Linked DNA regions of Homo sapiens. The protein of the gene in region 3 purifies or fractionates together with the protein of the main gene of each other region. This does not show direct contact. Each region holds a gene or a part of one and is shown on either strand. Other genes may lie near its edges. The genes, in order: DENND10, RPRD1B, RNF168, MKI67, POC1A, DHX15 and NUB1.

Region 1 (3,500 bases), on a different chromosome or scaffold from region 3:
CAGTGCGTGGCATTGTAGTATCCTGGATTTCTTCTCCCGTCACAGTGCAAGAGAAGTGAGGACTCGGAGCTACTGCCAGCCGCCTCCTCTGCTTCCTGCCCCTTCATGCAGCACTATGCTCACTCTTGCATGTATGCACATCCAAGTATTTGCACACACACACACACACACACACACAGGTCTGTGTGTACATGCACACACTCATAGGCAAAGACTTCTTTTCTTCATGACAGTTTAACATGGAGTTGCCTCCCTCCATTTCTGGTGAGGAGCAGGCAGGCGTGCCTTCCACACACAGCTTGCTGCTCACAGTGGCAGCAGAAGCCCGCAGGAGGGAACCTCATTCCCTATGTGGCTGCAGGTTCACTGCTGTGGTCCTCTTCAGCCTCTAGTCGCTTGCTGCTAGTGGCCCTGCTAGAGAACCGGGGTTTCATGCACACTTGCAGTCAGCTGTACAGGCCTCGATGTGTGGCAGCCTATGGATGTCTATCTGAACAAGGTGCTTGGGGTCGCACTGTGGGCTTTTCCTGTGGAGTGGTTTTGGGGGGATTTCCCCCTCTGTTTTATCTCTCCTGGCCCAGGGTTGTCATGTAGGAAGTCATCTTATCCTACCAACCTTATGTTTCTCTTCTCTATTACTGTGTATTGTTTCTATTTTATAATTTTTTTTTTTTTGAGATAGAGTTTCACTCTGTCACCCAGGCTGGAATGCAGTGGCGCCACCTCGGCTCACTACCACCTCCAACTCATGGGTTTAAGTGATTCTTGTGCTGCAGCCTCCCAAGTAGTGGGAATTACAGGTGCACACCACCACACCTGGCTAATTTTTATATTTTTAGTAGAGACGGGGTTTCACCATGTTCACCAGGCTTGTCTGGAACTCCTGGCCTAAAGTGAGCCTCTTGCCTCGGCCTCCTAGAGTGTAGAGATTATAAGCATGAGCCACAGTGCTTGGCCTCTATTTTAGAAAGCTAATGGCATTTTGGTTTTTTGTTGTTGGTAGTAATAAAGCACATTTAGAAACACAGGAGAATATGCAGTGAAAACTGAGCTGCCGCCTCCTCCTGTTCCCAGACTCCAGTTCTACCTCCTGATCCCCACCCCACACAACTCCCGTGACCTCCTTCTTTATATCCTATCAGAGAAGTTTTTCTCCCTGTGTGAGCCTGTGTGTGAGTTCCTGGGTTTGAATGTATTTTACATGTGTGAAAGCTCACCACATTCATTGTTCTCTACTTTTTTTCCGTCAAGTTGTGAATTGAATTGGTAATTTTTTTTTTTTTTTTTTTTTTTGAGACGGAGTCTCGCTCTGTCGCCCAGGCTGGAGTGCAGTGGCGGGATCTCGGCTCACTGCAAGCTCCGCCTCCCGGGTTCACGCCATTCTCCTGCCTCAGCCTCCCAAGTAGCTGGGACGACAGGCGCCCGCCACTACGCCCGGCTAATTTTTTTTGTATTTTTAGTAGAGACGGGGTTTCACCGTTTTAGCCGGGATGGTCTCGATCTCCTGACCTCGTGATCCGCCCGCCTCGGCCTCCCAAAGTGCTGGAATTGGTAATTTTTAAAAAAACACTGATGATTGACAAAAGTTGGCAAGCAGTTAAAACACTTGCTTTTTTCATTTAGTCTATGATAAATATAATTTTCAAGTGATCTTTTTTTTTTTTTTTTTGAGACGGAATCTCGCTCTGTTGCCCAGGCTGGAGTGCAGTGGTGTGATCTTGACTCACTGCAACCTCCTCTTCCTGGGTTCAAGCAATTCTTCTGCCTCAGCCTCCCAAGTAGCTGGGATTACAGGTGTGAGCCACCAGGCCCAGCTAATTTTTATATTTTTAGTAGAGACAGCGTTTCACCGTGTTGCCCGGGCTGGTCTCTAACTCCTGGCCTCAAGTGATCCGCCCACCTTGGCCTCCCAAAGTGCCGTGATTACAGGCATGAGTCACTGTGCCCGGCCCTCAAGTGATCTGTCTTAAATATGTTTTATTTTCTTCCCGATTTTCTATCCCACCAGCTCCTGAAAGGCCCAAATAGACCCAGTCATGTTTCTCAAGCAAAATTTAATTTTAGTTGCTCACAGGAAGAGATTTCAAGGGGAAGAGACGGATTCCACATGTGAGCTATAAATGCAGCCAGTTTCCTGTCAGCATTTTCTAGAAGCTTTAACTTGACGATGAATGTCTAATGTGCATTTATCACCAGAAACCTAAAGGAGTTTTGATTTCTTAATTATCTAAATATAGCTACCTCTGGGAACTCATTTAATAATAAGTATGGGTTCTACAACTAATTACTGGTTTCTCTGTGAACAGTGCGTAAAACTCCTTTCTCGTCAAAGGAAATCTCAGTGATAAAACAGAGTTGTATGACTGAGAACCCCAGTTGTGAATGTAAGACACAGGATAAGTGCACAACATTCTTGAGAATCCTGGGACCTCAGGAAGTTCGTACTTCATTCTCCTGCCTTAGTACAACAAGGGGCTCCCAGATGTAAGGAGATGGCTGAGTCCAAAGAATTGTTGAAGGTCTCTCAAGCTTTTTCTTTTCTTTCTTTCTTTCTTTTTTTTTTTTTTTTTTTTTGAGACAGAATCTTGCTCTGTTGACCAGGCTGGAATGCAGTGGTGCAATCTCGGCTCATTGTAACCTCTGCCTCCCTGGTTCAAGCGACAATCCTGCCTCAGCCTCCTGAGTAGCTGGGATTACAGGCATGTACTGCCACACCTGGCTAATTTTTTTTTTTTTTTGGTATTTTTAGTAGAGGTGAGGTTTTGCCATGTTGGCCAGGCTGGTCTCCAACTTCTGACCTCAGGTGATTCGCCTGCTTTGCCCTCCCAAAGTGCTAGGATTACAGGCATGAGCCACTGCGCCCGGCTGCTTTTTCTTTGAAATATATTTTTAATTTAGAGAGAAATGATGCTACTTGAAAGTAATACTACTTTCTACATGAAAAGATTCAAGCATTCAGGCCAAGCGCAGTAACTCAGCAGTAAGTGCAGTAAGTGCAGCTGTAATCCCAGCACTTTAGGAGGCTGAGGTGGGCGGATTACCTGAGGTCAGGAGTTTGAGACCAGCCTGGCCAACATGGTGAGACCCCGACTCTACTAAAATTACAAAACTTAGCAGGGTGTGGTGGTGCACACCTGTAATCCCAGGTACTCGGGAGGCTGAGGCAGGAAAAACACTTGAACCCAGGAGGTGGAGGTTTCAGTGAGCCAAGATTGCACCGTTGCACTCCAGCCCGGGCGACAGAGTGAGACTCTGTCTCAAAAAAAACAGAAGAGTGAAGCATTCAGAAGGGCAGTAGCAAGGTGGCCTCGGATTCTTGAGAAGGCACCCATACCAGCCTGGGTGCACATCTGTACATGATTTGTGCCAAATGAAATCACAGTTGCTTTGTTGTCCTTTCTTACAGAATGTACCTGAAACATGGGAGCCCAGTTAAAATGATGGAGAGTTATATTGCAGTTCTCACAAAGGGGATATGCCAGAGTGAAGAAAACGGCTCT
Region 2 (3,500 bases), on a different chromosome or scaffold from region 3:
ATCTGTGCCATCCAACAGGTAGCCGCTTGGTATATGTGGCTATGGAGCACTTAAAATGTGTGACTAAGGAACTAAAGTTTTAAGTAGATAGAATTGAAAATTTAGTTTCCAGTTTTTACCAGCTGCAATTCAGGTGTTCCAATAGCCACACGTGGCTAGTGGCTAACTTACTGGACAGTGCAGAGTTAAAAAAAGATGCTCTTCCAAGCATCAATACCTAGCTTCCGAATATCCAGGCTTATTTCATGAACTGAAAATGCCCCCACACTGAAAGAAAAGGATTCTGTGCCCTAATGTTCAGATTGATTAGCCCTGTAGGTTCTACCTAGGGTGAAGTCATTTTCCGTAGCTGAGATGCTCACAGACTGTCTCTGAGTTGCCTTCAAAATATATGAGATTTATAAAAATTAACTTTTTTTCTTGCTTAAATACTTCTATTCCTGATGTGTTGTCTTTCCATTTTCTAGGAATAATTTTTAATTTATCCCATTTGAGCTCTGTTCTAAGTAGAACGTCTCCCCTTCTTTATGGACTAGTTTTGGTGTAAAGTGCTCCTAAATGAATGTTTTTAATGGTGTTTTGTATCTTGGCCTGAATGTAGGTAATGGGCTTTTATTGCAGAATTACTTTAAGACTTTCTGTAGATGTCAAAACCAGCCAAACAAGTGAAAAGTTTTGATTAACCAGTTGTTTAAATTTTACTCAACAACTAGTTTGACCAGTTTGGAATGGACATGGGTAGTGAGTGAAAGGACCTATTTCTGTCGTATAGGAAGGACATCTGAACAAGTGAGTTGTCCCCCAGGATTGGGATGGAGGGGTGTGCATGTTGTGTGTATTGTGACTGTGTGTGCTCAAGAGCTCTAGGGTTTTGTCATATCACCTTGACACACATGGTGCTTATGTTGACTGTTGAGGATGTTGAATATGGAGGGATACAGTTTATCCTAAATAAATCCCCATTGTTAAGTTCTGGGGTGATGAAAATTAATTGGCATTGTAAACAGTGAAAACCTTGGGTCTCAAGCCCCTTAGATACCTTGTTTGTCTACTGAGAAGTATATATCAGGTCTTGAATGTCCACACTGACATTTTACAATATGGATTCTAGGTTTTTTTTTTTTCAACATAAAGTGTATGGAATTTTAAAGCTTCACTTAATGAAATTTGCTTTGTTGAAGTTCTGTTTTGCTTTCGAATCTGCTAACTTGCATGGGATTATAGGTGTAGTAGTTTCACTTACATCAACTTTGCAGAGCAAGGTTTGCTTTAACAAAAAAGCACGTTTTGCCATAATCATACCTTTGTAGCAACAGTAGATATTGTAACTACTGACACTTTTGTTCTGCTTTTGAATAATAATTAGAAAGTTGAAGAAAGCTCCAGGTTCCTAGTATTCTTATCAGTTGGCCATCTAAACTAGGTTATTACCAGAAGGTTAAGACAATTCAGGGTATCCATATTTAATTTTATGAGCATTTAAGACATCAGTTTCATCAGTTTAAACTGTAATGTGCTATTAAAATCATGTTTTTAACTTGGGTTACTCTCCTGTAGCTACATTTTTTTTTTTTTTTTTGAGACGGAGTCTCTTACTCTGTCACCCAGGTGGGAGTGCAGTTGGCGCGATCTCGGCTCACTGCAACCTCCGCCTCCCAGGTTCAAGTGATTCGCCTGCCTCAGCCTCCCAAGTAGCTGGGTTTACAGGCGCCTGGCACCACGCCCGGCTGATTTTTTTTGTTTTGTTTTTTTTTTTTTTTTTTTTTTTTGAGACAGAGTCTTGCTCTGTCACCCAGACTGGAGTGCAGTGGTGTGATCTCGGCTCACTGCAAGCTCCGCCTCCTGGGCTCACCCCATTGTCCTGCCTCAGCCTCCTGAGTAGCTGGGACTACAGGCGCCCGCCACCACGCCTGGCTAATTTTTTGTATTTTTAGTAGAGACAAGGTTTCACCATGTTAGCCAGGATGGCCTTGATCTCGTGACCTCAGGTGATCCACCTGCCTTGGCCTCCCGGAGTGCTGGGATTACAGGCGTGAGCCACTGTGCCCAGCCTCCTGTAGCTACATTTTAAAATGTCAGATCTTATGCCTGCTATGTCAGACATATCAATGCTTTGTACATTTCAAAAGAAACAACTGGTTTCAGAGAGAAATAGAGTTACTCAGGTGTGTTAAGGTTGATAAAGAGCTTGTGTTTTTCAGGTACTTTAGCATTGGAGAAAACTTTGTGTTTTGAAACATCTAATTATGTTCTTATTTATTTCTTTTAAAAGAAAATTGGAACCAAAAATTGTAGGGATGTAACTTTATAGTTGAGAAATTATGTGCATAGAAGCCAGGGAATTCAGTAATGTTCCCCAAAGCAACTGTAACTCAGACATATTGCACGAGGTTTTTATGGTTTAATATATGATACCATATAGAGTAATAGGGAATAACCACATTTCATATAAATAAGAGAGAATTATGGTTTTTGTGAAAGCCCTAATTTTGCATATCTAGATTTCACACGTGTGTAAATTTTCAATAAGAGTGTAGTGTTAATGTATACTTGTATTTGAGCTAATATCTATTGGTGCACCTAGAGATTCTTCTATATTATTGATTATGGTTATTGGAGTATCAGAGAAATTCTCAGTTTAGGAGCAAAATTACAAGAAACCTTTTTTTTTTTTTTGAGACGGAGTTTTGCTCTTGTTGCCCAGGCTGGAGTGCAACAGCATGATCTAGGCTCACCACAACCTCTACCTCCCGGATTCAAGCGATTCTCCCACCTCAGCCTCCTGAGTAACTGGGATTACAGGCATGTGCCACCACGCCAGGCAAATTTTGTATTTTTAGTAGAGACGGGGTTTCTCCACGTTGGTCAGGCTGGTCTCAAACTCCCGACCTCAGGTGATCCGTCCATCTCGGCCTCCAAAAGTGCTGGGATGACAGGCATGAGCCACCACGCTCGGCGAAACCATTTTAAAATTGAAACCTAACTCAGTCTTTTTTTTTTTTTTTTGAGACAGAGTCTTGCTCTATTGCCCAAGCTGGAGTACAGTAGTGCAATCTCGGCTCACTGCAACCTCCACCTCCTGGGTTCAAGCGATTCTCCTGCCTCAGCCTCCTGAGTAGCTGGGACTACAGGTGCCCACCATCACACCCGGCTAATTTTTGTATCTTTAGTAGAGGTAGGGTTTCACCATGTTGGCCAGGCTGGTCTCAAACTCCTGACCTCAAATGATCCACCCACCTCGTCCTCCCAGAGTGCTGAGATTACAGGCATGAGCCACTGCGTCCGGCCAACTCAGTCTTTCATTCTGAAATATTTGATAATTAAAAGTGAGTTAGAAGTTGCTCATTTTTGCAGTAGAATAAATAAAAGCCCTAGTTTCAACATTAACACTGACTGCTTATCCTTTAGGAATTCTCTTTGGATTATCTTAATTTTTACTATCAATTAATTACCCTGGTTTAAACAACACAGCAATGAAGATGGCCCATTCTTTTTCTTTT
Region 3 (3,500 bases):
ATCACCTGAGGTCAGGAGTTCAAGACCAGCCTGGCCAACATGGTAAAACCCCCGTCTCTACTAAAATTACAAAAAATTAGCTGGGCGTGGTGGGACATGCCTGTAATCCCAGCTACTCAGGAGGCTGAGGCAGGAGAATTGCTTGAACCCGGGAGGTGGAGGCTGCAGTTACCTGAGATTGCGCCATTGTACTCCAGCCTGGGCAACAAGAGCGAAACTCCGTCAAAGAAGAAAAAGAAATAGCAAATGGACTGGATGCAGTGGCTCACACCTGTTATCCCAGTGCTTCAGGAGGCTAGGGCAGGAGAATCGCTTCAGCCAAGGGGTTGGAGGCTGCAGTGAGCTATGATCCCGCCACTGAACTCCAGCCTGGGCAAGAGTGAGATCTTGTTTCCAAAAACAAAAGAAAAAGGCAAATGAAGACAATTTTAACTTGTGTCTGCAGTTGAATAACTCACTGATCTTAATTTAGATTCAGTTTATGTAGAAATAAGTAAACTTTAAAAATCTGTCATTCCACGGTTTAACAAAAGTTCAGCTCTCTGCTTGCTGTAGTTGGGCATCTTCTGTAAATCGCACGTGCCTTTCCTTTGCCTGTTGTGGTTTTTAATTGATCTGTGGAAGTTCTAGTTATATTCTGGACACTAATTCTCTGGTGATTTATGTATTTGCAAATAACTTCTAGTTTGTTTTTAACTTTGTGATGTCTTTCATCACATGGAAGTTTTAATTGTTTTGGAATTTATCTCATATGTTCTTCTTAGTCGTTTATAGTTTTGTTTTTTTCCATTTTTTAATCCACCTTGAATTCGAGTATTGTATGAGGTAGGCATCTTAACTCCCCCTGCCCTTGATTGCCACTTAATAGCCACACTACTTGGTAGTAATACAGCCACATTGATATACGTACTATTTCACTAATCATATGCTTATTTTCCAGAGCAATTTGGGGCTATTTATTTATTTTATTTATTTATTTATTTATTTATTTGAGATGGAGTCTCTCTCTGTCACCCAGGCTGGAGTGCAATGGTGCGATCTTGGCTCACTGCAACCTCTGCCTCTCGGGTTCAAGCGATTCTCCTGTCTCAGCCTCTTGAGTAGCTGGGATTACAGGCGTGCACCACCACACGTGGCTAATTTTTGTATTTTTAGTAGACATAGGGTTATTTGCCTTGTTGGCCAGGCTGGTTTTGAACTCCTGACCTCAAGTGATCCGCCTGCCTCCACCTCCCAAAGTGCCGGGATTACAGGCATGAGCCATGGCACCTTGCCTGGGCTTTTTATTTTTTAACTATCTCTTTATCAGTAGCTGTGTCAGTACCACACATGCTTAGTTTAATTCTGCTTAATGATATGTTTTGCTTTCTAGTATAATACATCTGTCTTATTATTGTTTTCCTAAATTAGCTACTTAAAAAAAATTTTTTTGAACAAAGATGGGGTCTTGCTATGTTGCCCAGGCTGGTCTTGATAGCCTGAGCTCAAGTGGTCCTCCTGCCTCAGCCTTCCAAAGTGCTGGGATTACAGGCATGAGCCACTGTGCCCAGCCTCTTAGCTACTATTTTATTGTATCTAATGTGTAAAGTGATTTACTTTTTTTCCAGTTTTATTGTAAAAGATACATAACATAAAATCCGCCATGTTAACCATTTTTAAATGGACAGTTGCGTGACATGAAGTACATTCATGTTTTTGTGCAGCCGTCACCACCATTCATCTCTGAACTTTCTCATCTTCCACGCTTGAAACTGCCCATTAAACAATAATTAATTCCCCATTCACCCCTCCCCTGGCTGCTGGCGACCTCCATTCTTTCTGCCTCTACGGGTTTAATTGCTCTAGGTGTCTCGTACGAGTGGAACCCCACACAGTGTCTGTCCTTTGGTGACTGGCTGTTTCACGCAGCGTAGTGTCTTGAAGGTCCATCGTGTTCTAGCACGTGTCCATTCCATTTCCTTTTTTGGCCGCATACTCCATTATGTGTGTGTATATATCTTAATGGATGACTATTATAAAAAAAAAACCAAGTGTTGGCTGTCCTCTGAAGCGGTATCTCCGTACTCAGGATTTGCACTTCCCTAATGACTAGTAATGTTGAACATGTGTTTTTGTTTGTTTGTGAGACGGAGCCTCCCTCTGTCGCCCAGGCTGGAGTGCAGTGGCGTGATCTCGGCTCACTGCAAGCTCCGCCTCCCGGGTTCAAGCAATTCTTCTGTGTCAGCCTCTCGAGTAGTTGGAATTACAGGTGCCTGCCACCACTCCCGGCTTTTTGTATTTTTTGGTAGAGACGGGTTTCACCGTGTTGGTCAGGCTGGTCTCAAACTCTTGACCTCAAGTGATCCACCTGCCTCGGCCTCCCAAAATGCTGTGATTACAGGCATGAGCCACTGTGCCCGGCCTACTGTCAGTTGTTTTATTTGGGTTTTTTGTTTGTTTCTTTGTTTGTTTGTTTTGAGACGGAATCTCCCTCTGTCGTCCAGGCTGGAGTGTAGTGGTGCAATGTCGGCTCACTGCAGCCTCCGCCTCCCGGGTTCAAGCTATTCTACTGCCTCAGCCTCCCGAGTAGCTGAGACTACAGGTGCGTGCCACCACGCCTGGCTAATTTTTGTATTCTTAGTATAGACGGGGTTTCACCATATTGGCCAGGCTGGTCTCGAACTCCTGACCTCATGATCCGCCTGCCTCAGCCTCCCAAAGTGCTGGGATTACAGGCGTGAGCCACCGCTCCCAGCTTACTTTAATTTTTTAAATGAAAATAGTTTGACTCTGCAGTTTCCCTGAAAAAAAGTCTCAGATACCTCCAGGGTTTCGTAGATTCTACTTTAAGACTTGCTGATCTAGGTCTCAGTTTAAGCCAGCTGATTATCCTTCTACTTTTTAAGGAGCCTTATATATGTCTCTCCTGTGTATACCATTGTATTGTCTTGAATAGATCCTCCTTAGTGACTAAAATAAATGAGAATTCAGCATACTGCATCCCTAATTGTTTTGGAGTTACATCACTGTTTTTTAGTCTCTCTGTTGCAGATTTTTCAAACTGCTGGCCTGCAGGCCATAGGAATCCTGTGTGCATGTTTTTTGTGACCCATCCAATGCCACTATTTAAGTTGGAAGATTTCATATTAACATCTTGATTGCTGGATTTTCTTTTTTTTTTTCTTTTTACTTGGATAAATTTATGGGGTGCAAGGGTAATTTTGTTACATGTATAGATTGCACAGTGGCGAAGTCAGGGCTCTTTAGGGTATCTGCTACCCAAATAATGTACATTGTACCCATGAAGTCATCTCTCACCATCCACCCCTGCCGCCTCTGGATTTTCTTGAGAAAGCAAAAAATATGGCACGGACAGGCCTGAGTTTCCTGGTAGTCGTAGTCAGCTGGAGTTGAGTAGCAGCTGCCCCTTGAAACAGACAGATGCGTTCTCTTTTTTGGATGTTCCCTTTTTACACTTTATAAAACAGTGTCTTGTTTTATAGAATAAAATTCTCATCAGA
Region 4 (3,500 bases), on a different chromosome or scaffold from region 3:
CTGAAATAAAAACATACACAATAAAAACATTCTATTAGTGTCTCATGTCAATCGAGTATTACAGCCTCATAAAATATGGTAAAAAACTAAATATTTAGCTTCGTATTCACTGAACGACATGAGGCTACTTATGTGTCTATAAATCTGTCTTATAAGAGCCATGCACAATTAAGAATAATGTTATTTGGTGCTATAGTGGGGTCATCATTAAGCAAAGTTAGATGCTGAAATGATCATAGAAGGTAAAAATACTGCTTCAGAAGGTTCCTCCAAAGGTTGCCATGCCCTGTGTCATTGACGTAAATATAGGCATTTTTTCCTTCAAACATTAGAAACAAACAGCTGTTTCTTGCCTTAAATCGCCAATAAAATAACATGGATTATCCTTATGTGGTTAGGGTCCATATTACACAGGAAATATTTACCTACCGCAAACATCTTCAGGGTAGCAAGCTGTTCCCTCTGTGACAGGAATACAGTGACCAGTGCCAAATGAGAGATTAGACAGATTCTCATCTCCCATCTCACACTTACCCCGGGCCTGCTCCCACCTAAAAGGTTAGCAGGAATAATTGCACAGTATACAAACTGTTATCTTTCTGTTTTGTAATTGGCAGTAATTTTGAATATGAGTAATTTATATGTAAATATGGTGAGACACCATTGTATTTTTTTGCTATGTCACCCTGGTTACTTACAATAAAGAAGCCAAAAGTGTACACAGGTCATTTACACACATTAACGGAGTCTTTCTTTCTATATAAGTCAATGAATGCCAATGTTAGTTCAACTGCTGATTGAAATCTCCCTTTCAATTAGAACAGAGAAGACGGAAATGGTATTTTGTGCCAGGAACATTTGTTTTAGAGAAGTAATATCATACTGCTTGTAAAAAAATAATACTGTATGTTCCTATCCCAAAACATCACAGTGTTAGGAAACAAGGAAACCAACCAAAACTCTCTGAGGTGGGGAGCAGAGGTTCTTCTCCTGAATCAGTTCCTTGAAACTGTTTTCCAAGCAAATTCTCTGAATTTGAAATAGCGATGTGACATGTGCTTGTCAACTGCGGTTGCTCCTTCACTGGGGTCTTGAACATTTCAGCTATTCCTGTTAAATGAAAATATTTGAAAAGTGATTGACATATTGCTAACATGCAGACAACCATCCCAGCCCTCACATGTAACGTGCAAATGGTGGGAAATAACAGTAGATTCCTCCCTTGAAATCCTGGTACATAGGCCTCATAAAAAGAGTGATTCCATTAATAATGTACTCATTTTGTAAAAAAGAGAGCACAGAGAAGATATGTTATGCTCTTCGCTTTGCTTTTCTTGGAAAGGAAACAAATGAAGTTAGCTGACCTCTGGGTCCTCCTAACAAGACCCCACACGTGAGCTCTGGAGCACGGAGGCTGGTGACGGGCTCCTGAGACCCATAGGCCTCCCTGCTAGGATCTAGAGGCCAAATGCCTTCATGCTTCTCAAAGTCTTGGGTGCTCAGTTCTAGATTTTAAGTACAAATAACACGTACCCACATTTTAGAAAATGACAAAGAGCTGCCCATTTTTAGTACTGTCAAGTAATAATATATATTTTTGAAAATCTAATATCATTATCATTCTGTTTGGAATGATAGGAGGCCTCAGCCTCCCAAAGTGTTGGGATTACAGGCGTGAGCCACTGCGCCGGCCATCCCCACTTTAAATTACACAAGTCAGGCCACAATTTACTGAGAGTGGGAATTGAATGGAAATATTTCTTCAACAATCGTTTATGGGAATCTTCTCATAGGGCTTTCTTTCAAGAAAGTTAAGCTACCTAGAAAGTCAATCCTGAAGAAGCAAAATGTTGCTCAACAACAACTGGCCCACACCTGGGATAAACTATTATTGTACCTGCAGATTAACAAGTTAACTCTCTTCACTGTAAAGCACCTTCCAGCTTTCTATGTATACGCTGCTCTCCAGGGTAAAGACATGCATTTGACATTTCCACACCTATTTCATGCAGGACATGTGATCCCAAAAATTAGCAGAGACTTGTCTTTGCAAGCCAAAACAGCTTTATCTTCCCTGAACACTAAGACCCCAGAAGGGTGATTGAGTCGTTTATTTTATAATCTCTTTCACAGCAGATAAACAAAGTTAGCAAAACAAACATTAACACAGTAAAAAACAGTAGAGTCAAAAGATTTATAAGATCTAAGACTACGTTTTTACCTGAAAGATCTTCCTTAAAGTCCATTTTTTGGTTGGAAATGAAGTTGTTGAGCACTCTGTAGGGTCGAGCAGGCACATGTACTTTTTCAGTATGAGCTTTCCCTATTATTATGGTACAAGGAGAGTTTGCGTGGCCTGTACTAAATTGACTGTGAACTTCGCCCACAGGCTTCTGTAGAAAACAGGAAGGAGGTAAACAGGACATTAAAGCATAAATCCACACTGAATGCAAGCTTCGATGACACCGGTATGTGTAAAGCAGCCATTCAGTGAGGCCCCTACCTTTGGAGTAGCAGGTCTTCTTTGCCTTTTGTTCATTGACCTTTGAGGACCATGTTTTATGACTTTAGTTTGTGTTTGTTTTGCACCAAGTTTTACTACATCTGCCCATGATTTTGCAACTGTCAAAGGGAAAAGACGAAACTTTTCAAAAATTAGCATTCATGAAAAAATTCACCTTAATATATGTATTCTAATGTCAGACTAACCAATCAGATTTGCTTCCGAAGCACCACTTCTTCTTTTGGAACATATCATCTGTAAAATATCATGTTGACTTCGGCTGATAGACACTCTCTTTGAAGGCAGGTTGCCACTCTTTCTCCCTCCTCTCTTAGGAACCTCTGTCTGAGATTTGCTGCTGGAAGCAGGGGCTGTTTTGCAGGACCTACGGCGTTGATCACTGGCAACTGGAGTTTTCCTAGGACTAGGAGCTGGAGGGCTTATAACCAAGCTTTGTGCCTTCACTTCCACATGGATTTCTGAACCTGACTCTTGTTTTCCTGATGGTTGAGGCTGTTCCTGACAAGACAAAATTGTTTACAAGAAGCCTTAACAAGGATCTAACATCTCTGGAATGACTGATAAAAACCTATTCAGTTAAGAATTTCAGCTGTTTAAATCTTGAAGCATCAAATGCTTAAGCCACTGTCTTTGAAGACTATGGTAGAGGTGAGACTGTCTCAGTCATTTAAGGAAAAGGAAAGAGAAGCAAGCCAAGTCTGAAGTGAGGTCATTTCAGGTAAAAAGGTGGAAGGAACATCCTGATCAGTGAAAGACAAGCAGGGTCTGATCTCAGTCCCAGTAAATACCAGCTGTGAGCACCCAGCCCCCGGCAGTCCACATGGAGGGAGGACTGCTTGCCCCTGGGAGCCAGTGTAAAATGGAAAGGGAGCCAGACATCACTTTCCACTCCTGCTGGGAAGAGAAGGAAAGAAAGACCGCCCAGGCCCTATTACAAAGGTTATGAGCTATAGGGCCATGACTTCCCAGAGGTGTG
Region 5 (3,500 bases), about 140 Mb from region 3:
ATAAGCAAAGGAATTATGGAGCCACCAGAAGCTGAAAGAGGGAAGGCAGCATTCTCCCTTAGTGCCTCCAGAGGAAATGTGGCCCTGCCTTGATTCAGACTTCCAGAACTGTGAGAGAATTAATTTAGATTGTTTTACGCCATCAAATGTGACAATTTGTTACAGCAGCCCTAGGAAACTATTAATAATATATACTTCATGTTGTTTTGGTGCTATTGAAAAGATAATGGCCAAGAATTTTCAAAAAATAATGAAAGGCATCAAACCATAGTTCCAAGAAGCTCAGAGAAACAGCAAACAAGCTGGAGAAAAACAAAACAAAACAAAATCCTAGATGAGTTATATTCAAACTTCTGAAAACCAAGGATTAAGAAAGAAATCTTGAAGGTAGCCAGAGAAAAAAAGACATATATATGTGGATCAAATGTAAGAATTATGAAGAATTCTCGTGAAACTATACAAACTGAAAGAGTAACATCTTTAAAGTTTGAAAGAAAAACTGCCAACCCAAAGTTCTGTACTTAGCAAAAATATTTTAGCAATGATGGGGAAATAAGACCTTTTTTTCCCCTCCAGAAAAACCAAAGCTGACAATTTTTTACCAGCAAATTTGTATTATAAGAAATATCTAATTTCTCTCTCTTCTCCTTCTAGGATTCCAATTGTCCATGTGTTAGAGACAGTATTGTCTTGTAGCTTATGGAAGCTCTGTTCTGTTTTATCCCTCTGTGTTTCAGTTTGAGGAATTGATCTATCTTTAAGATCACTAATTTATTTTCCCATTGAGCCCATTATAGCCATACTTCTCTGTTACTGGGTTTCTTATTTCTGTTGTTTCCATTTGACTCTTTCTTATAATTTCTGCCTTTCTGCTGAAATTCTCCATTTGATCATGTGTGTTATTCAGTAGAGCCTTTACCATATTAATCATAGTTATTTTAAATTTTGTATCTCATAGTTTCAACATCTAGGTCATCTGAGTCTGCTTCTACTGACTGCTTTGTCTCTTGACAGTGGGGTTTTTTTTTCTCCCTGCCTTTTTGTGTCTCATAATGTTTTATTAAATGCCAGGCATCATGCTTAGGACAGTAAAGACTGAGGTAAATAGTCTTATCAGGAGTTGAGCTTAGTTTAGTGTTACCTAACGTACCTAGGATGAGGTCTGGTTGATGGAGGATTTTCTCAGTCATTTTCCTCACTCTCACCTTTCAGCCAGCCCTGTGGGCATGCCCCTCAGAGGGGCATGCTTTTTTCCATGTTCTTGGCCCTCCTCCCTAGATAGGCTGCTGTTGCTTATTGCTTGGTGCTTGATATTTTTTTTTTTTTTTTTTTTGCTGAGGGTTGGGGTGGGCCCTGTTGTCTTGACCCAGCTTCAGTCTTAAGCAGACTCTGTCTCCCTGGGTCTCAAAAGTGAGACATTCTTAGCGGTCCTGCTCCTTCCTCATTCAAAGGAGACCTTGATAATCTCAGCTCAGGATAGTTTCCTGCCTCTCCCTCAAGGGAAGAGGTGTTTTTATATTTGCTTTTCCCTAGTAGTTTCAGGATGCTCTTCTACAGGGGAGAGGTCCTGGCAGGGCTTCATACCTTTCCTTACTCACTCTCCTCTCCTAGGCCTGCACCTCCAAGAACGGTTTTCTTCCATCTACTGTTCTGCCCCCATTTTTTTTTGTCATGAAAGCCCAGTGGAGGTCTGTGGAGGAGAACCTGTGCATGGGTGCAAGCTCTACTTGTGTCTGTGGCACCTGGGGGTTCTGCACTCTTACCCTAGTCTGCGCTTGGTCTCCAGCAGTTTGTTAAAACTGTAACTTACCCACTCGTATGGTATTTGGCGTCTCTTCTCCTCATGCTTTGCCATAGGTGACCCACAGCTGATGCTCACTTTCTATTTTCCTTGGAAGTGTCTGTCTTTCCTTAGATTTCAGGCTACTGGTTGCTCTGTGACTTCAGCTCTCTGATTTAAGAGAAGTTATGATTCTTTTAGATTGTCAGTCTTTTTCTTGTTAGGAAGGAATTAACACTTTCCCCAGCTTTATATATCCTAGGCAGCAGCTCCTTATCCATACTTGTATCTTGATGGAAGAGGGAGATCACGGTCAATTCAGAGACCTCTCAAGAAGTCAACTCCAGATGGGTTGATTTCTTGTCACAAGGAAGATCTACAAGCTGTTTCTTTTGTTTTTAATGAAATGTTATGGTTTGGTTCCTCATGTGTCTGGGTAGCTGAGTATCAGCCACAGACATTTAGGCAATTCCTACTGTGTGTGAAGTGATGAGCTCCTGGTGGTGTATGAAAAGCAGGCAGCAGAGGAAACAGGAACTGAGGTGGGCAACACATTAACCAACTGTGAGAGGCCAGAGTCCCACCCCAGGGTGGCATGAGAGGAGACACCTGCAGACCCCAAGTGATATTTCCCAAAGTTAGAGCCATCTCTTGAGAGTCACCTTTTTTTGTTTTGGTATTAAGATGTTTATATTTGGCAAAAGTGAAATGTTGTTGAATTGGTGTAGGCCTATACGAGTATATGTGTGGATTAATCTTTGTTGTTATTTTAGTGAGCATTACTTTTTCTTTTGAGACGGAGTCTTGCTCTGTTGCCCAGGCTGGAGTGCAGTGGTGTGATCTCAGCTCATTGCAACCTCCACCTCCTGGGTTCAAGTGATTCTCCTGCCTCAGCCTCCCGAGTAGCTGGGATTACAGGTGCCTACCACCATGCCTGGCTGATTTTTGTATTTTTAGTAGAGATAGGGTTTCACCATATTGGCCAGGCTTGTCTTGAACTCCTGTCCTCAAGTGATCCACCTGCCTTGGCCTCCCAAAGTGGTTGGGTTACAGGTGTAAGTCACCGTGTCTGGCCTCTTTGTGTTATTTTATTCATGTTATACTTAACTGAGAACCACCAGGCAAAACCCCTAGGACTCTTTGATGTTGAACAGACAAAATGCTGATGTGACTTTTGCATTTAAATGCTGCTTGGGTTATTCTGCCACTGTCATTACTCATGGCTCTGGTACGACTGTCTCTTCCCACTCTTGTGTGTCATTTTCTTATCTCTGCTTTCTTGCTTATTTGCCCAGCTCTCAGGGAAATGCCACAGCTCCAGAGTGCTGGCATGCAGGTGAGTGGCTACAGAGCTGTGAGGGGTGGGGCTGCTGGCCCTTTGCTGCAGTGCAGACATTGGGGAGGATTCATTACACAGGAATTTTACCTCGGTGGGCCCTGCTCTTTGAGGTGTTGAGTGTTTGTGGAGGGCCTGCTCTGAGTTCAGCTCTGTGCTGGGCAATCATTCCAGGGCAGCTGGGTTGGGGAAGTGACGCAAAAAGCATTAGACCTAGGATTCAGAGGCCTCCATGGGGACGTTGGAGAGGAACTGTGCACATGGAAGCCCAGCTGCAGTCAATGTCACCTGCCAGAGGCTGTCTCATGTCCGGGAAGAGCCTGCACTTTGGGTTCAGATCCCAATTCTGTTATTTGCTGGGTAACTTAGAACAAGTTACTTAAC
Region 6 (3,500 bases), on a different chromosome or scaffold from region 3:
TTTTGCTCAGTTTGTCATACATTTCTTTGCTTTATGACACTTCATGCTACATAGAGACTTGAATTTTGTACACGTATTGAATTAACCACTTTTATGATGTCCAGGTTTTGCATCATACCCTGCCCAGTGTTGGTTTAAATAATTTAATCCATGTATTTTACTATTTTGTTTTTGTTTTAAACATTTAACCAAGCTGGAATTTTACTGGGGAGGGATCATAAGCTTTGAGGTAGGGATTTCTGGTTTTCATTTTATAAAAATGATTTTTTGCCTTTCTTAGGCTTAGTTTGTAATTTTTTGGAATGTTTCATAAAATATATATACATATATATAAATACAAAAATATAAATAAGTAATATATTTGCAGGATGTAATGTTTTACCATGGTTTGTTCAAATCAGAATTAGTGATGTGTTAGGTGTCGTCATCTTGCTGAGATCATAGTTGGCAGTTGGCTTGTAGTTATACTACGCCATCTACATGTGCCTGTTGCAAAAAAATACTTAAGCTAGGTTGATACTGTTCAGTACATGGGGTTTTTGGTATATTTTATTAAGCAGTCACAGTTGAAAAGCTGAACTGTTACTTACTCCAAGGATGTTTTTGCTACTTTAGACATCTTTAGGTAATCTGCTTCTTGTTTAATTTGATTAATTTAGACTAGTGTTTCTTAAACTTTAGCAATCATCAGAATCACTTGAAAACTTGTTAGAGCAGATTGCTATGCCTCACCTTCAAAATTTCTGATTAAGTAGATCTGAGATGAGACTCAAGTTTTGTAGTTCTTACTAGTTCCAAGGTGATGCTAATAAATTTTTAAGAGCATCTCTGCCCTAAAACAGTTGGAAAACACTGTAGATAGTAAGGCACCCAGTAAAGTGTGGAGTTTGGCTATCCTGTGGCACTTTTATTAATTCATCATTGAAACTTCAAACTTAAAATTTTACTATTGTGACTCATTCCTTAGCCTGGATAAATATTTCATTACTACTAAGAAAGTTAGTAAAACTTGACTCTTACATAAAGGAAAATGGACTGTAGTTTTTATCTCCAGTGCCTGATTCTGCCTTTCCTGAGTTCTGTGTCAAGTTAGTTTTTTGTTGTTAAGCAAAGGGTTTCATACATTTAACAGTATAGCAAATCGTCAAGTACTGTTTCTTTTTTTTTTTTTTTTTTTTTAGTGGCTTAAAATTGACAAATTCATTCTCTCACAATTCTGAAGGTCAGAAGTTCAAAAACAGTATGTTGGCAGGTTAGTTCCAACTGGAGGCTCTAAGTGGCAATAGTCTTTCATGATTCTCTCCTAGCTTTTGGTGGTGGCTAACAGTCCTTAGCATTCCTTGGCTTGTAGCTTTGTAACCACAGTCTCTGCCTTCATCTTCACGTGGCTTTCCTTTTGTGTTCAAATCTCCCTCTCTTTACATTTTGTAAGGATACTGGTCATTGGATTTAGGGCCCACTCTTAAATTCAGGGCGATCTTGTCTGAAATTTATAACTTAATTACTTCTGCAAAGACCCTATTTCTGAGTAATGTCACGTTGATAGGTACCAGAGGTTAGGACCTGGGCATATCTTTCGAATAGCTTTTTGCTATGAAATTTGTACGTACAATGGGTTCCTTTATCTGGGACTTTGTGAAGAGTGTGTTAATGTAGGAGAGACTTAGGACTGGGAATCAGTACAGTGATACCTAGTCTTAGTAACTGGTTTTGAGAGTCTGGAAAAGTTGACTACGGTTTTTTTCGTTTTCTTCACTGGAAAAGAAGTAAATTTGACTATATCCTTGAGACCTTTGAAATTTTGAAATTTCATTTTTCTTGAAATTATTCATTGTACAAACAGCAGTATCCCATATTAACTGGTGATGCAAGAAGTAATTAAGTGCAGCACCTCATGGAATGGGATCACTGGGTGATGATCAGTATTGAGGAACCATTGGGAATTGTCTGGATGATAGAAGTTTTGGCCATTTAACTAAGTACTTGCAATATGCATAGTTAATAAAGCACAATAAAATATTTCCATTAATCTAATTTATAATATTTATAGTCTGCCATCTGTAACATTTCTTCCCTTAGAAAAATAAAAAGGAATGTCTGTTGGTTAGCTCTGCTCCATATTGTGATTGATTAAAGCTTGAGGAATGTGAGGAGAAAAAAGATCAAAATAAAGAAGGTGACTTTTAAAACTAGTTTTAAGAAGTTTTCAACTTAAAGTCATATTTTATCATTTCTGTGACTTTTTTCTCAAGTTTTTATTGTCTGAAGTTACAATGTGTCTCACAATCTACTGAGGTCTTGTAGTTGGTGGCAGTTTGGTTATTATTGCCTGTGAATGCTTGAACTCGATCTAGCTGTACATATTTTCACCTCAAATAATGTGAATTGTTGGGTCTGTATATACTGAGAGTATTTGCTAATTTAAATGCCTTCAGAAATATTAAATATTACACTATGATTCCATGTTGAAATGAGCACTGAGTATCAAGAGGCTGGGAAATGGAGCAATAGGGTGTAAATATGCTAGTATTTGAGCAAATGTTGGAAGAGTAACCAATCCTTTTTTTTTTTTTTTGCCTTGCAAATCAACAGACCGCTCTATTGAAGCTAAGAGAGGTAACTCACAAATAGAGGAAGCTGTATGTTATGTTCTGCTACTGAGATCATGTACAAGAGTATTGCCTCTCTCGTGTCTGTGATATATCGGAAGACAGGAAAAATTACCAAACGTCCTCAGATCAAAGAAATTTCAAAGCAGCTAAGGGCTATAGTGTTGCTGATTCTTGCACTATGCTTTACTGTCTTTAAGGCACTGAGTCATAATTTAATTGGCAGTGTTTTTTCTTTCCTGGTCTTACATAAAATAACCTTATAGCTAATGCTGTTTGTCCCTCCCAGGAATGTGGTAGTTTATTTTTAAAAATATGACCAAGGACAAGAAGCATAAAGCATATAAATGAGTTAAGATGGATTTGTTTGCCAATAGTTTATGAAATTTAGAATTAAGTTTAGGTGAAATAAAGAGAATTCACTTCTTTTTGTTGTACACTATCAATTTGCTGAACTTAATGCTCCAGCAGATGGCATGAGCTAAAAATATCCAGTTGGTCCATGAAAGATTAGGTTAGACTAATCATAAAAAGAGCCAAAATGGTGAATTCATAAATGATGGCTTCAGATTTTTTAATACCACTTTTAAATCCGTAAATAAAATAATGGGTTTTTATCTAACTGGATGAGCTGTGACTTAAGCATCTAAAGGCATCCTGTGTTTTGTCCAGGTGCCAAAAGGAAGATAGTTGTTTTTCATAGTGACATCAGTAACCAGTGTGGAATGGACAGGAGATAGCTGACCCCTGCAAAGTTATACAATCTTGACCCTTGATCTCATTGCCTTCATTCTTACGTGGCGCCTGTCTTGTGATAACTGGAGTCCATATTAGCAGCCTTCACTTGAGCCATCCCTAACTAAGCCTGGTTTCCCTTTTTGGTTCATTGAT
Region 7 (3,069 bases), on a different chromosome or scaffold from region 3:
TAACCACCACATCTGAGGATTGCTGAGCAGAATCTAAAACACACAGGAACACCCTTTACCCATCACTAAGAACTCTTCACACATTCAGACAGGCGCTGCACCCTGCCATGTGCTAGGCAGACCCCGCCGTCCTCTGCTGCTATGAGGCAGAGAAAGGGGCTCCCACTCAGGCTGGTGTTCACAGAAGGCTTCCAGCCAGAGACCAGGACAGCTGGGGTTTGAAGGAGGAGCAAGACTAGTCAGGGAAAAGATCCCTTCTGTTAGAGCAGGAAGGGATGGAGAGCAGGTGGAAGCAGCATCCAAGAAAACAGGTTTTGTCAGAGCTACAGACAGAAAGGTCTCAAGCAGCTCAGGGCTGCCTGATTGATCTTTGAAAGCGTCATGCCCTCTAGACTTAAAATGTCAGGCAGGTAGTAGGGTTATTTTGACCCTTGATTTCTTCATCACACAATACTTAATCTTCAAAGACCCTGTGGAGACTTTCCTTTCCAACACTCAGTACTTCCATTTTGACTGGAAGTATTTTTGTGCCACTCGTATAATTCACATCTATTTTGAGACCCATCAGTCCCTTCGAATATTCAGAATTTCCCACCTCTTAATATTTCTCCAACACACAAAAAAACGAACTAGATGATATTCAAATAAAAATTTAAAATTTAACGTATATGTTAAATATACATGTACATAGTTACAAAAGTACTGACTTGTGGAGCCTTCCGGGGAACAGGGCAGGGATAAGAGGCAAAGGCAGGGTGGACTCCCCGTGCCTGCTGCACCCACACCCGCCTCAGCAGGGCAAACGAGGACACCTGCCCTGCACCCCACCCCCTCCAACCCCATCTCTGTCCCCCCAGCCCCGCCCCCAGCACGTGCACAACCTAAGCCAGCTCCTACCACTCTGCTTCCTGCCCGCCGCGCTGCCCCAGCATCTGTCTGGACTGCTGCCTCCACACAGCCAGCCCCCTGCCTCCTGTGCACCCCCTCGGGACCCCTCACCACGTGTGCTCTGAGTTTGTCTCTCACTGACCTGCGGGGCCGAGAGGGCAGAGGGTGGTTCCATGCCAAGCTGCTGAGACGCAGCGCAGCACCTGCCCTACTGAGGATTCGATATGCTTCTCCAACACAGGGAAGGAAGTGGCCCAGGTAAAGTCACTGCTGTCTGGATCCCAACCTGCTGTCACTCCTGAGGGGTTCTTTGAAAAGCTCTCCCTTTGCCAACATGTACGATGGACTAAATAAATAAAACTAGATACTTACATTTAAAATTTTAATGCCAAACAATTATACTACAAGTTGAATTCCCATTCTCTTTTTTCTGCCGTGGAAACTGCCTGTTTCACTAAACTCTGCTGCACACAGAAACCCTACACAAAGTCCTGGCCTGTGGACTGTGCTGGTGTGGACAGGCACCACGTTTTGGAGCCAGGCCTGGGCCAAGCACTGAGCATGGGGCCTCACGTGGCCTCACGCAGCCTGTGTCTGGGCTGGAGCCCAGGAGAAACCTGCCCTTCAGATCCGGATGACGGGGCAGCCCATAGGAGTGAGCCCGGGAGGATGCTGGAGAGCCATGGAGGGAGCTCTGGGCAGGACCCACTGCTCAGGGACAAGGCCAGAGGCCCCGAGGGAGCTGCTACCTTCAGGGCCTCATCCAAGTTCCCGCTGGCTGCGTGGAGTACCTGCTGGGCCGCGTGCGTGGAGTAGCCCATCCCTTTCAGAAACCTGATGTTCTCGAGGCGGCGTCTTTTCTTCTCTTTTTCCTCCTTCCTTATTTGGGCCAGTTCCTTTAGGAAAACAGCAAAGTCCCATCCCAAGTTAGGGACTGAGATTTCACAGCCTCTCAGTCTGCGCTCTGCAGGATTCTCCGCATTTCCAGGCAAAGCCAAAAAACCAAAGCAAAGCACAGGGGGCCCTCTTTCTACCTCTCCTCACCCAGCCAAATGGCAGAGGTGCCACAGAGGCAGAGGGGTGGTGGAAGTGCTGCTTCTGAGGCAGGCAGTGGAAGTGAGATGCCCGTGGGGCAGGAAGGAGGTGCCTCGCCAGCCCCGCCATCCACCATCCGGCATCAGGATGGGCTGCTCGCCAACCCAGCACTCCCACTGCAGAGGTCGCGGGTGTGAGGTGCATGGATTCTCTTCTAGGAACCAGGTAGGAACCGGGTAGGAGAGCTTCTGCACGCGGTGGGAAGGCCTTCCAGCCTTCGATGAATCGCCCAGGGATTCAAGTTAAAATGTGATGTGGAATCAGGGGCTCCTGGGCAATGCCAAAGCTGGTGACCCGCCCCCCACAGCCTGGGGAGCAAGGACTCCAGGGCCTTCTGAGGCCTGTCATTCCATTCGGAACCCACAGAGTGCCCAGAGACAAAGGTCATCTAACCTCTTGGTTCTCAACCCTGTTTCTCAGAGTTGCCTGCTATTGCTGCAGGAGCGCAGGACGGCTGCAGAGGGTTCTAGTCTCTTCACCTCTCCCACCCAGGGCCAATCAGGAGAGTTCCCAATTTATTTTGTAAACTAGTATCCCCATAAAAATGTCATTTAAAAAGGGGATTTTGCTGCTTAAAAACAACAACAACAAAGCAAGTTTGAAAACCAGGAATTTAATCCAACCTCATTATTTTCCCAACAAGGAGACAGAAAGCTTTCAACAAAGTTAAGTGACTTGCTACATTCTCCCAGGGAGACCAGCCCCACCATCAGCAGCAGCGAGGACGGGGGAGAAAACAGACTCCTTCCTTCCAGAGACCTGATCCTGCCTCCTGCCCAGCCCAGGCAACAGGCGCCTCCCTGCATTTTCCCCACAGCAGGAAAGCGGCCTCATCTCTTAGGAAAACAAAAGCATCATCATTGTGGAACCAGACTCCACAGGCCCCACAGTAGGAGCAGGCAGAACAGAGTGGCTGCTGGAAACATCTCCAGGGATGAAGACATCTGTAGACTCATGGCCTGTCTCTATCACAGGAGAACCTCCTGGTGTGGCCCTGGAGTGCCCACAGCGCCAGCTCCCTTTGCTTCCCCTTCAGCTGCACCAGGCCTGTCTCATGCCCCCATTACGTGCTCTACCTCTCAGTGG

Evidence for each region.
Region 1: the proteins of RNF168 (region 3) and DENND10 purify together in Homo sapiens (affinity purification with mass spectrometry; one large-scale study listed by BioGRID and IntAct). This does not show direct contact.
Region 2: the proteins of RNF168 (region 3) and RPRD1B purify together in Homo sapiens (affinity purification with mass spectrometry; one large-scale study listed by BioGRID and IntAct). This does not show direct contact.
Region 4: the proteins of RNF168 (region 3) and MKI67 purify together in Homo sapiens (affinity purification with mass spectrometry, with the first as the bait; one study listed by BioGRID). This does not show direct contact.
Region 5: the proteins of RNF168 (region 3) and POC1A fractionate together in Homo sapiens (co-fractionation; one large-scale study listed by BioGRID). This does not show direct contact.
Region 6: the proteins of RNF168 (region 3) and DHX15 purify together in Homo sapiens (affinity purification with mass spectrometry, with the first as the bait; one study listed by BioGRID). This does not show direct contact.
Region 7: the proteins of RNF168 (region 3) and NUB1 purify together in Homo sapiens (affinity purification with mass spectrometry; one large-scale study listed by BioGRID and IntAct). This does not show direct contact.

The regions. Positions count from the first base shown.
Region 1 is NC_000010.11:119,114,113-119,117,612, forward strand, and holds part of DENND10 (DENN domain-containing protein 10), read left to right. Parts: intron 1-3,406; coding exon 3,407-3,500. UniProt on the Homo sapiens protein: Guanine nucleotide exchange factor (GEF) regulating homeostasis of late endocytic pathway, including endosomal positioning, maturation and secretion, possibly through activating Rab proteins such as RAB27A and RAB27B.
Region 2 is NC_000020.11:38,036,746-38,040,245, forward strand, and holds part of RPRD1B (regulation of nuclear pre-mRNA domain-containing protein 1B), read left to right. Parts: intron 1-713; exon of another isoform or gene 714-1,362; intron 1,363-3,500. UniProt on the Homo sapiens protein: Interacts with phosphorylated C-terminal heptapeptide repeat domain (CTD) of the largest RNA polymerase II subunit POLR2A, and participates in dephosphorylation of the CTD by RPAP2. Transcriptional regulator which enhances expression of CCND1.
Region 3 is NC_000003.12:196,490,269-196,493,768, reverse strand, and holds part of RNF168 (E3 ubiquitin-protein ligase RNF168), read left to right. Parts: intron 1-3,500. UniProt on the Homo sapiens protein: E3 ubiquitin-protein ligase required for accumulation of repair proteins to sites of DNA damage. Acts with UBE2N/UBC13 to amplify the RNF8-dependent histone ubiquitination.
Region 4 is NC_000010.11:128,109,424-128,112,923, forward strand, and holds part of MKI67 (proliferation marker protein Ki-67), read right to left. Parts: intron 3,023-3,500; coding exon 2,710-3,022; intron 2,623-2,709; coding exon 2,504-2,622; intron 2,394-2,503; coding exon 2,222-2,393; intron 1,111-2,221; coding exon 955-1,110; exon of another isoform or gene 524-954; coding exon of another isoform or gene 430-523; intron 1-429. UniProt on the Homo sapiens protein: Protein that associates with the surface of mitotic chromosomes and acts both as a chromosome repellent during early mitosis and chromosome attractant during late mitosis.
Region 5 is NC_000003.12:52,098,924-52,102,423, reverse strand, and holds part of POC1A (POC1 centriolar protein homolog A), read left to right. Parts: intron 1-3,500.
Region 6 is NC_000004.12:24,557,055-24,560,554, reverse strand, and holds part of DHX15 (ATP-dependent RNA helicase DHX15), read left to right. Parts: intron 1-3,500.
Region 7 is NC_000007.14:151,372,812-151,375,880, reverse strand, and holds part of NUB1 (NEDD8 ultimate buster 1), read right to left. Parts: exon of another isoform or gene 1,785-3,069; coding exon 1,638-1,784; exon of another isoform or gene 34-1,637; coding exon 1-33. UniProt on the Homo sapiens protein: Specific down-regulator of the NEDD8 conjugation system. Recruits NEDD8, UBD, and their conjugates to the proteasome for degradation. Isoform 1 promotes the degradation of NEDD8 more efficiently than isoform 2.